Homo sapiens: one gene and its partners. The protein of the gene in region 3 purifies or fractionates together with the protein of the main gene of each other region. This does not show direct contact. Each region holds a gene or a part of one and is shown on either strand. Other genes may lie near its edges.

Evidence for each region.
Region 1: the proteins of NAA35 (region 3) and ATXN2 fractionate together in Homo sapiens (co-fractionation; one large-scale study listed by BioGRID). This does not show direct contact.
Region 2: the proteins of NAA35 (region 3) and DRG1 fractionate together in Homo sapiens (co-fractionation; one large-scale study listed by BioGRID). This does not show direct contact.

What each region holds. Positions count from the first base shown.
Region 1 is NC_000012.12:111,589,165-111,592,819, reverse strand, and holds part of ATXN2 (ataxin-2), read left to right. Parts: intron 1-3,655. UniProt on the Homo sapiens protein: Involved in EGFR trafficking, acting as negative regulator of endocytic EGFR internalization at the plasma membrane.
Region 2 is NC_000022.11:31,423,527-31,427,181, forward strand, and holds part of DRG1 (developmentally-regulated GTP-binding protein 1), read left to right. Parts: intron 1-3,088; coding exon 3,089-3,256; intron 3,257-3,533; coding exon 3,534-3,655. UniProt on the Homo sapiens protein: Catalyzes the conversion of GTP to GDP through hydrolysis of the gamma-phosphate bond in GTP. Appears to have an intrinsic GTPase activity that is stimulated by ZC3H15/DFRP1 binding likely by increasing the affinity for the potassium ions.
Region 3 is NC_000009.12:86,021,126-86,023,688, forward strand, and holds part of NAA35 (N-alpha-acetyltransferase 35, NatC auxiliary subunit), read left to right. Parts: intron 1-775; coding exon 776-835; 3' UTR 836-2,563. UniProt on the Homo sapiens protein: Auxillary component of the N-terminal acetyltransferase C (NatC) complex which catalyzes acetylation of N-terminal methionine residues. N-terminal acetylation protects proteins from ubiquitination and degradation by the N-end rule pathway.

The DNA of each region.
Region 1 (3,655 bases), on a different chromosome or scaffold from region 3:
GTCACACCTATTATCTTTTTTTTTTTTTTTTTTTTTTGAGACGGAGTCTTGCTCTGTCGCCCAGGCTGGAGTGCAGTGGCACGATCTCTGCTTACTGCAACCTTTGCCTCCCGGGTTCAAGTGATTCTCCTGCCTCAGCCTCCTGAGTAGCTGGGTCTACATGCGCACACCACCACGCCTGGCTAATTTTTGTATTTTTAGTAGAGACAGGGTTTCACCATGTTGGCTAGAATGGTCTCAAACTCCTGACCTCAGGTGATCCACCTGCCTCAGCCTCCCAAAGTTCTGGGATTACAGGCATGAGCCACCGTGCTTGGCCGCTGCCGTATCTTTTTAAATGAAAGTACTTGTGTTTTTTTTGTTTTTTTCCAAAGGATATCTGGGTCATCTATGATGTTACTGTTACCATCTAAGGGTTTTTTTGTTTGTTTTTGAGACAGAGTCTCTGTCGCCCAGGCTGGAGTGCAGTGGCGTGATCTTGGCTCACTGCAACCTCCGCCTCCCAGGTTCAAGCAATTCTCCTGCCTTAGCCCTCCCGAATAGCTGGGATTACAGGCACCCGCCACCATGCCTGGCTAAGTTTTGCATTTTTAGTAGATATGGAGTTTCACCATGTTGGCCAGGCTGCTCTTGAACTCCTGACCTCAGGTGATTCGCTTGCCTCGGCCTCCCAAAGTGCTGGGATTACAGGCGTGAGCCACCCCCGCCCAGCCTCATGAGCTAAGGTGTTTTTTTTTTTTTTGAGACAGTTTTGCTCTTTCCCAGGCTGGAGTGCAGTGGTGCAATCTCAGCTCACTGCAACCTCTGTTTCCCGGGTTCAAGCGATTCTCCTGCCTCAGCCTTCTGAGTAGCTGAGATTACAGGTGCCTGCTACCCCACTCAGCTAATTTTTGTATTTTTAGCAGAGACAGGGTTTCACCATGTTGGTTAGGCTCATCTCGAACTCCTGACCTTAAGCGATCCACCTGCCTTGGCCTCCCAAAGTGCTGGGATTATAGGCATGAGCCACCGTGCGCAGCCTACCCTGTCTCTTAAAAAACAGTAACAACAACAACAACAACAAAAAATCCTAAATCTTAAAAATGGAAGGCAAAAACTCTAAGCTTTGAGAGATTAGGGGACTTGCCCAAAGCAATATTTGTAGGATTTTATTACACCTCTCCCTTTATTTATTTTTTTAGAGTCAAGGTCTCCCTCTGTCACCCAGGCTGGAGTGCAGCCTCAATCTATGGGGCCAAGCATTTCTCCTGTCTTAGCCTCCTGAGTAGCTGGAACTACAGGTGTACACCAGCTGGCTAACATTTAAATTTTTTGTAGAGACAGGGTCCTGCCATGTTGCCCAGATTGGTCTCAAACTCCTGGGCTCAAGTGATCCTCCTGCCTCAGCTTCCCAAAGTGCTGAGATTACAGGTGTGAGCCACTGCACCGAGCCCCCTCCCTTTATTTTTATTTTTAAATTTTAAGTTCTGGGGCCCCTCCCTTGAAATAAATAGAAACGTAATATATACACAAGATCATGCTGTGTATTTTAAGGCAATGGTCCTCAACCTTTTTAACACTAGGGACCGGTTTTGTGGAAGATGGTTTTTCCATAGGGGCAGGGGATGATTTTGAGATGAAACTGTTCCACCGGCCGGGCACGGTGGCTCACGCCTGTAATCCCAGCACTTTGGGAGGCCGAGGCGGGCAGATCACGAGGTCAGGAGATCGAGACCATCCTGGCTAACATGGTGAAACCCCCCTCTACTAAAAATACAAAAAAATTAGCTGGGCGCGGTGGAGGGCGCCTGTAGTCACAGCTACTCCGGAGGCCGAGGCAAGAGAATGGCATGAAACCCGGGAGGCAGAGCTTGCAGTGAGCTGAGATAGCACCACTGTACTTCAGCCTGGGGGACAAAGTGAGACTCCGTCTAAAAAAAAAAAAATTGTTCCACCTCAGATCATTATGCATTTGTTAGATTCTCATAAAGAGCATACAACCTACATCTCTTGCTATATGCAGTTCCCAGTAGGGTTTGTGCTTCTATAAGAACCTAATGCTGCACCTGATCTAACAGGTGGGGCTCAGGTGCTAATGCTCACACAGCTCCTGTTGTGCAGTCTGGTTCCTAACAGGCCTGTTTTTTTTTTTTTAATTAGATGGAGTCTCGCTCTGTCACCAGGCTGGAGTGCAGTGGCACGATCTCAGCTCACTGCAACCTCTGCCTCCCGGGTTCAAGCGATTCTCCTGCCTTAGCCTCCCATGTAGTTGGTACTACAGGCGCACACTGTGATGCCCAGCTAATTTTTGTATTTTTAGTAGAGACGGGGTTTCACCATGTTGGCCAGGATGGTGTCGATCTCCTGACCTTGTGATCCGCCCAACAGCCTCCCAAAGTGCTGGAATTACAGGCGTGAGCTGCTGCGTCCGGCCCCCTAACAGGCTTGTTTTATGGAATACAGTCACGGACAGTACTTGCCCTTCAGGATATCTTTTTGTAACCTTGATTTTGGCTTGCTAAAATAGGAGGTCTATTTTCTTTTCTTTGTTTTTAATGTATGTGGTTCTGTACTTACGTGGTGTGAAATCTACATAAATGTTAAATCCTTGGTTATTTATTTATTTTGAGACAGAGTCTCACTCTGTCACCCAGTCTGGAAAGCAGTGGCATAATCTCGGCTCACTGTAACCTCCACTTCCCAGGTTCCAGTGATTCTCCTGCCTCAGCCTCCTGAGTAGCTGGGATTACAGGCATGCACCACTACACCTGGCAAATTTTTGTATTTTTTTTTAGTAGAGATGGGGTTTCACCATGTTGGCCAGGCTCGTCTTGAACTCCTGACCTTAGGTGATCTGCCTGTCTTGGCCTCCCAAAGTTTTGGGATTACAGCATGAGCCACTGCGCCTCGCCTTATTTTTTTGAGACAGGTTCTAGCTCTGTCACCCAGGCGGGAGTGCAGTGGTGCCATCATGGCTCATTGCAACCTCGAGTTCTCAGGCCCAAGTGATCCTCCTATCTCAGCCTCCTGAGTAGCTGGGACCACAGGCATGCGCCACTATGCCCAGCAAAATTTTTGTTTCACTCTGTTGCCTAGGGTGGGGTGCAGTGGCAGGATATCGGCTCAGTGCAACCTCTGCCTCTTGCGTTCAAATGATTCTCATGCCTCAGCCTCCCGAGTAGCTGGGATTATAGGCATGCGCCACTACACCTGGCTAATTTTTGTATTATTGGTAGAGATGGGGTTTTATCATGTTGGCCAGGCTGGTCTCGAACTCCCGACCTCAGGTGATCCATATACCTTGGCCTCCTGAAGTGCTGGAATTACAGGCATAAGCCACTGCGCCTAGCTTTTTTGTTTGTTTTTATTTTGTAGGGACAGAGATTTTACCTGTTGCCCAGGATGGCCTTGAATTCCTGACCTCAAACAATTTGCCCTCCTTGGCCTCCCAAGGTGCTGGGATTACAGGTGTGAGCCACTATGCCTGGCTGGTTTTTTAAATTATTATTATTGTTTGTGTGTGTGTGTTGCAGGATCTTACCCTGTCACCCAGGCTGGAATGCAGTGATGTGATCTCGGCTTACTGCAACCTCCGCCTCCTAGGTTCAAGTGATTGTCCTGCCTCAGCCTCCTGAGTAGCTGGGATAACAGCTGTGTGCCACCATGCCTGGCTAAT
Region 2 (3,655 bases), on a different chromosome or scaffold from region 3:
TTTTTTTTTTTTTTTTTTGAGATGGAGTCTCACTCTGTTGCCCAGGCTAGAGTGCAGTGGCGTGATCTCAGCTCACTGCAAGCTCCACCTCCCAGGTTCAAGAGATTCTTCTGCCTCAGCCTCCCGAGTAGCTAGGATTACAGGTGCGCACCACCACGCCCAGCTAATTTTTGTATTTTTAGTAGAGATGGGGTTTCATCATGTTGGCCAGGCTGGTCTTGAACTCCTGACCTCAAGTGATCCGTCTGCCTCGGCCTCCCAAAATGTTGGGATTACAGGCATGAGCCACTGTGTCCAGCCTGTGCTACTATCTTAAATGATAGTGGGCTTTGGTTTCTTTTTTTTTTTTTTTTTTGAGATAGAGTTTCGCTCTTGTTAGCCAGGCTGGAGTGCAGTGGCGCAGTCTCGGCTCACTGCAACCTCCACTTCCAGGTTCAAGCGATTCTCCTCCCTCAGCCTTCCTGAGTAGCTGGGATTACAGGCCTGTGCCGCCACGCCTGGCTAATTTTGTATTTTTAATAGAGATGGGGTTTCTCCGTGTTGGTCAGGCTGGTTTCGAACTCCTGACCTCAGGTGATCCACCCCACCTCGGTCTCCCAAAGTGCTGGGTTTACAGGTGTGAGCCCGGCCTTTTTTTTTTGAGACAGAGTCTTACTCTGTCACCCAGGCTGGAGTGCAATGGTGTGATCTCAGCTCACTGTAACCTCCTCCGCCTCCCAGGTTCAAGCGATTCTGCTGCCTCAGCCTCCCAAGTAGCTGAGATTACAGGTGTGCACCACCATGCCCAGCTAATTTTGTATTTTTAGTAGAGACGGGGTTTCATCATGTTGGCCAGACTGGTCTCAAACTCCTGACCTCAAGTGATCCGCCTGCCTTGGCCTGCCAGAATGTTAGGATTACAGACATGAGCCACTGCGTCCAGCCTGTGTTACTATCTTAAATGATAGTGGGGCTTTGGTTTCTTTTTTTTTTTTTTTTTTTTTTTTTGTGAGACAAGAGTCTCACTCTGTCACCTGGGCTGGAGTACAGTGGCGCGATCTTGGCTCACTGCAACCTCCACCTCCTGGGTTCAAGTGATTCTTCGGCCTCAGCCCCCTGAGTAGCTGGGATTATAGGCGCCTGCCACTACATCTGGCTAATTTTTTGTATTTTTAGTAGAGATGGGGTTTCATGTTGGCCAGGCTGGTCTTGAACTCCTGACTTCAGGTGATCTACCCACCTCAGCCTCCCAAAGTGCTGGGATTACAGGTATGAGCTGCTGTGCCCGGCACCCGCCCCCCCCCCCTTTTTTTTTTTTTTGGAGTCTTGCTTTGTCCCCCAGGCTGGAGTGCAGTGGCACGATTTCAGCTCACTGCAACCTCTGCCTCCCGGGTTCAAGCAATTCCCCTGCCTCAGCCTCCCAAGTAGCTGGGACTACAGGTGTCCGCCACCATACCCAGCTAATTTTTGTATTTTTAGTAGAGACGGGGTTTCTCCATGTTAGCCAGGCTGGTCTCAAACCTCAGGCAGTCTGCCTGCCTCTGCCTCCCAAAGTGCTGGGATTACAGGCGTCAGTCACCCTGCCTGCTGGCTTTGGTTTCTTTAGGGGTAAACTGAGGGATTAGTTTTTATTTCTGACATCCTTCCTTGCTTTTAAATTTAATTATGATGGTCATATTCCCCATTTCAGTTTTTTTCTTTTACAGCCTCTTCCTATGAAATTCTCCGTTTCAGTTACTTGCTGTAAACTAAGCTGCCCCCTAAACTTTGTCATGTGATAGTTGAAGAAAGTAGTAGGTCAGTCTGCTCTTCCAGAATTAATCCACCTGAGAAGTTATATAGGCTGTGTCCTACAGAAGTCCGAGCAGGCCAGGCTGTGTCTGTTTTCTCCATCCTAAGAGTATGTAGCTGAATATCTGTTTCATGATACATTACTTTTTTTTTTTTTTTTTGAGACAGAGTCATGCTCTTGTCGCCCAGGCTGTAGTGCAGTGGTGTGATCACGGCTTACCGCAGCCTTGAACTCCCGGGCTCAATCCATCCTCCCACCTCAACCTCCTGAGTAGCTGGGACTATGGGCGTGTGCCACCAAGCCAGGCTAATTTTTGTATTTTTTGTAGAGATGTTGTTTCACCACGTTGCCGAGACTGGTCTTGAACTCCTGGGCTCAAGCAATCTGCCTGCCTTGGCCTCCCAACGTGTTGGGATTATAGGCATAAGCCACTATGCCCAGCCCATTAATATTACTGAGACTTTAATAAGTTAAGTCACTGTTAAAATTACTCATAGCATTTGCATGTAATATTTTTAGTTGCTCTCCTAGTCATTTGTTCCTGTATGTTGGATGAGTGTACTTACTCCTCATTTGAAAACAAACAGAAGCCAGTGTTTTCAGTTAGGCATTTTACAAGTGAGGCAGTTAAACCTGAGAAGTTGTGGCTTGCCTAATTAGTAGTAACCTTAGCTGTCATATTGATTGGACACTAGGAATATGACATTGGTAGATGCTATATCAGTTTTACCAATATTATTTATTGTACCAATAAATAAAACACTTATTTTTTAGTCTTTAAGTATAAATTATGTTTTAAAACAGCCTTGTAGGAAACTGACTCAGAGGTTAAGTGACTTTCCTAGGGACACATAACATCACCTCTTCATATCCACAGAGGATTGCTTCCAGGACCCCTTGCAGATAATGAAACCTGCAGATGCTCAAGGCCCTTATATAAAATGGTATAGTACAGCTGACCCTCCGTGTCTGTGGGTTTTTGATCTGCAGTTGGTTGAATTCAGGGATGCAAAACCTGCATATTTGGAGGGCCAGCTGGGATTAGAATCAGTCTGAGCACTTCAAAGCTTGTGTTCTTTCCACTGCAGTATGCTTTCCTAGCAGTTAGCTTTGTGGCTGGTACTAGGGCCTGACTTCTGTTACTTTTCAACCCATAGTTCACTTTTTCTTTTTCTTTTTTCTTTTTCTGGCTGATCTGCTACTTACAGTCCCTCTTGGGAGCGCCAGTTGGGTCTGGGTGAGGGTGTGCTGTTCAACAGTCTGACAGTTCTGTCAACAACTCCAGACTAATACCCTGTTTTTCTTCACTTTCTGTAGAGTTTATATCCCCTGTATCTATGTGTTAAATAAGATTGACCAAATCTCCATTGAGGAATTGGATATCATCTATAAGGTGCCTCACTGTGTACCCATCTCTGCCCATCACCGCTGGAATTTTGATGACCTATTGGAAAAGATCTGGGACTATCTGAAACTAGTGAGAATGTAAGTCTTTGTGGATAGGGTAATGTTGCTATAGGAATTAACCAGACTGTCCTAAAATGATACTTTCTGGAGCTCATTAACAAAATCTGGCTCTTTTTGAAAATATAAGTAAATTGGTTCCTATTATCTACTAGGTCATTAGGTCATATTGAGGACACTTTTTCCCTTAAGTTGGAGGTTGTCCTGGTCTGATGTCAGGGGTGATGGAGGGTTGCTATACATTCAACACATGAGATAGTCTAAGAAGGCAGTAATCTTTATGCCCTCTCTATTCTAGTTACACCAAACCCAAAGGCCAGTTACCAGATTACACATCCCCAGTGGTGCTTCCTTACTCCAGGACCACAGTGGAGGATTTCTGCATGAAGATTCACAAAAATCTTATCAAAGAATTTAAAT
Region 3 (2,563 bases):
TTTGTCTTGAGATGTGTATTTTGTTGAGTTAAAATTTCTAAAGTCTGCCTATACGTTTTCCATCTCCTTGCTGTGTAAATTACTGAATAACTTGGGGTAAAAAAAGAAAATTTATGTAAAGAAATTTTATGGGAGAAGTATGAGGTATTTAAAAGTCATCTGCCTTTGGGAAAGTGAATGCTTTAATAATGAAAGACTTCTTTGTAATGGCTCAGAAGAGGAAGAGTCTAAGCTTTTCTTGGTAATGTTATATCATCCATGCTACGTCATCATTTCAGAGCAGAGATTCTGCGCTGTGGAGAGGCCAGCCGCGGAGGCACCGTGGGGGCATTTGCCTGTGTGTGTTGTGCACCTTTTCTTCCATTGTTTCCTGTGATCTGCCTTCCTCCTCTCCTGCCCTGGTTTCCTACTGACTGACTCTCATCTCATTGCTTAGTTCTATCAGTTACCTGGAGCTAAAAAGTGTGCTGACCCCTGATCTAACTGAATGCCTTTCCTATAATTTTTGACTATTTATCTTTTAACTGTTCTTTGAAGATAGAAAACAGCTGGTCAGCCTGTTTTCTTATGATCTTCATAAAACTCAAAAACAAATTAATCGTTTTTCTTCCAGGTTAGTTCCTACCTTTTTTGTCATTAACCTAGTTTTTAAAATCTATTTTGTGCTGCCTTGTTTCTAAGAACACAAGAAACTCTAAAATAAAAATAGTCTTTGTTTTGTGTACCATCTGAATATTTGTAGATACATTAATTGAGTTTCGTTTTTCTTTAACAGGTTCCTCCTGAATTTGATTTCTCTGCTCATAAATATTTTCCTGTTGTGAAACTTGTTTGAGAGAGACTGGGGAGGTGGCCATAAAGGGGCAGAGTCTTCTTTCAGACCCAACTCTTAGAGGGCACATCACCAGGCTCCACATCACGGGAAGTGAGATGGATTTCTTGGGTAACAACTCATTATAAGGAATACTTTTAGTTTGACAGCCTTATATGACATGAATGAAAACTGCTGTTTTAAAGTGGTTTATTATGTTCCATGGAAGAAACTGGTCTTATTGAATGCATTGATGAACGTTATATGGTTTTATTACAGATTTAATCACAAATCATTTTTTATGAATGATTGAGTGAAAATAGTGTTTATAAAGGTTAATAAATTTCTTGACAAAAAAAAAATGCACTGCTGGAGATGAAAAACAGTAGGTCTTTGTCCATGTTAAGAACTGAAGAAGGTGTATGCTCTTTAACATTTGAGTAGTTCCAAAAACGTTATCCAAAAGAAGTTTCAAATCAAGGGATTAATTAAACACTTGTATGAGATTTTGGTAAAATACATTTAGAAGGGATTTTTGGGAGGGCCTCTAAATTACATGAAAATTGTGATTTTTATGTGTCATGACATCACAAATTATATATCTGTAAGAATACAGATGTGTAAAAAAAATCCTTTTAGCACTTTTAAAAGATTATACATTGTTTGCTGGTGACATGCAAAAAGGAGGCAGATAGAAATGTATATAGATTAAAATTTAGGACTAGGTTTAAATGTGGTGTACTTTTTGTTTACTTCATATTCAGTTTAACCCATGAAACATTTTCAAATGGGTGTCTGTTCAGTATCCTCTGGCTTTGAAAAACTGACTACATCCCCCTGTGCTTGCAAGTGCCTGCTGCCAGAGGCCCTCCCCTTCCTTTCCTGCTTGTCCTGTGTCTGCTCTGATGTTTGCGGTGGCAGCTTTCTAGGCCTCTTGGGCCTTCCTTTTTGTCCTCTGTAGCAGGCAATACTCTTAGCAAAATGAGTTACTCTGTGGTGTAAATTGGCTTTGGTGGCTTAGCCTAAGACTAGTGACAGTTTTATATTTGGTCTGTGGTTAAAAGGGTTCTCAGCTTCAAATATCTTAACTCTGATTTGGTACCTTTCATAAAAACATGATAGTATAGTGAAACTTTTCTGGCAGTACTTTAAAGCAGCTAACCTGACTGAACTTGCTAAGGGTGTTCCTGTTGCCCCTCTTTGCAGCTAATGAGCCCTCTTGGCTCTCCTTTCCAAGAGCGGTAATACTTGTGTTATTCAAGAACAGCCATTAGGTGTCCTGAAATTTCAGAACCGAAAAATCTTAAAAAAAATTATTTTTTAAGTAGCCTGTACAATAGAAACTTCAATTATGGAGAGACAAAGAGTATACCTGTTACTGATGTAGTTACTTTGTTGAGAATGAAAACTGTTTCTGGCTGGTAATTACTGAATGCTTTAAACAAAAAAAGGCAAAGGAATGGTAGGAAATAGGCAAGACAAGAAACAAAGAATCAAAAGAAAAAGCAAAGAGGAAAACAGAATGAGCATGGACATTTGGCAAACAACCAAGAAGAGAGCCTGAAGCAAGTTAGAAAGCTGAGAAATTATTATTCTTTCCCAGTGGCCAAGATACAAAGTATAAAAAATATGTCCCCCTTAAAAGCAAAAAAAGGAATGTAGATTAATGCAACAAGGGCCCTGCTAGATGATGGGATCACTTTTAATTAAGAGGGTGTGCTGGCATTTTTTAGCTACTATGTCTGATTGGGT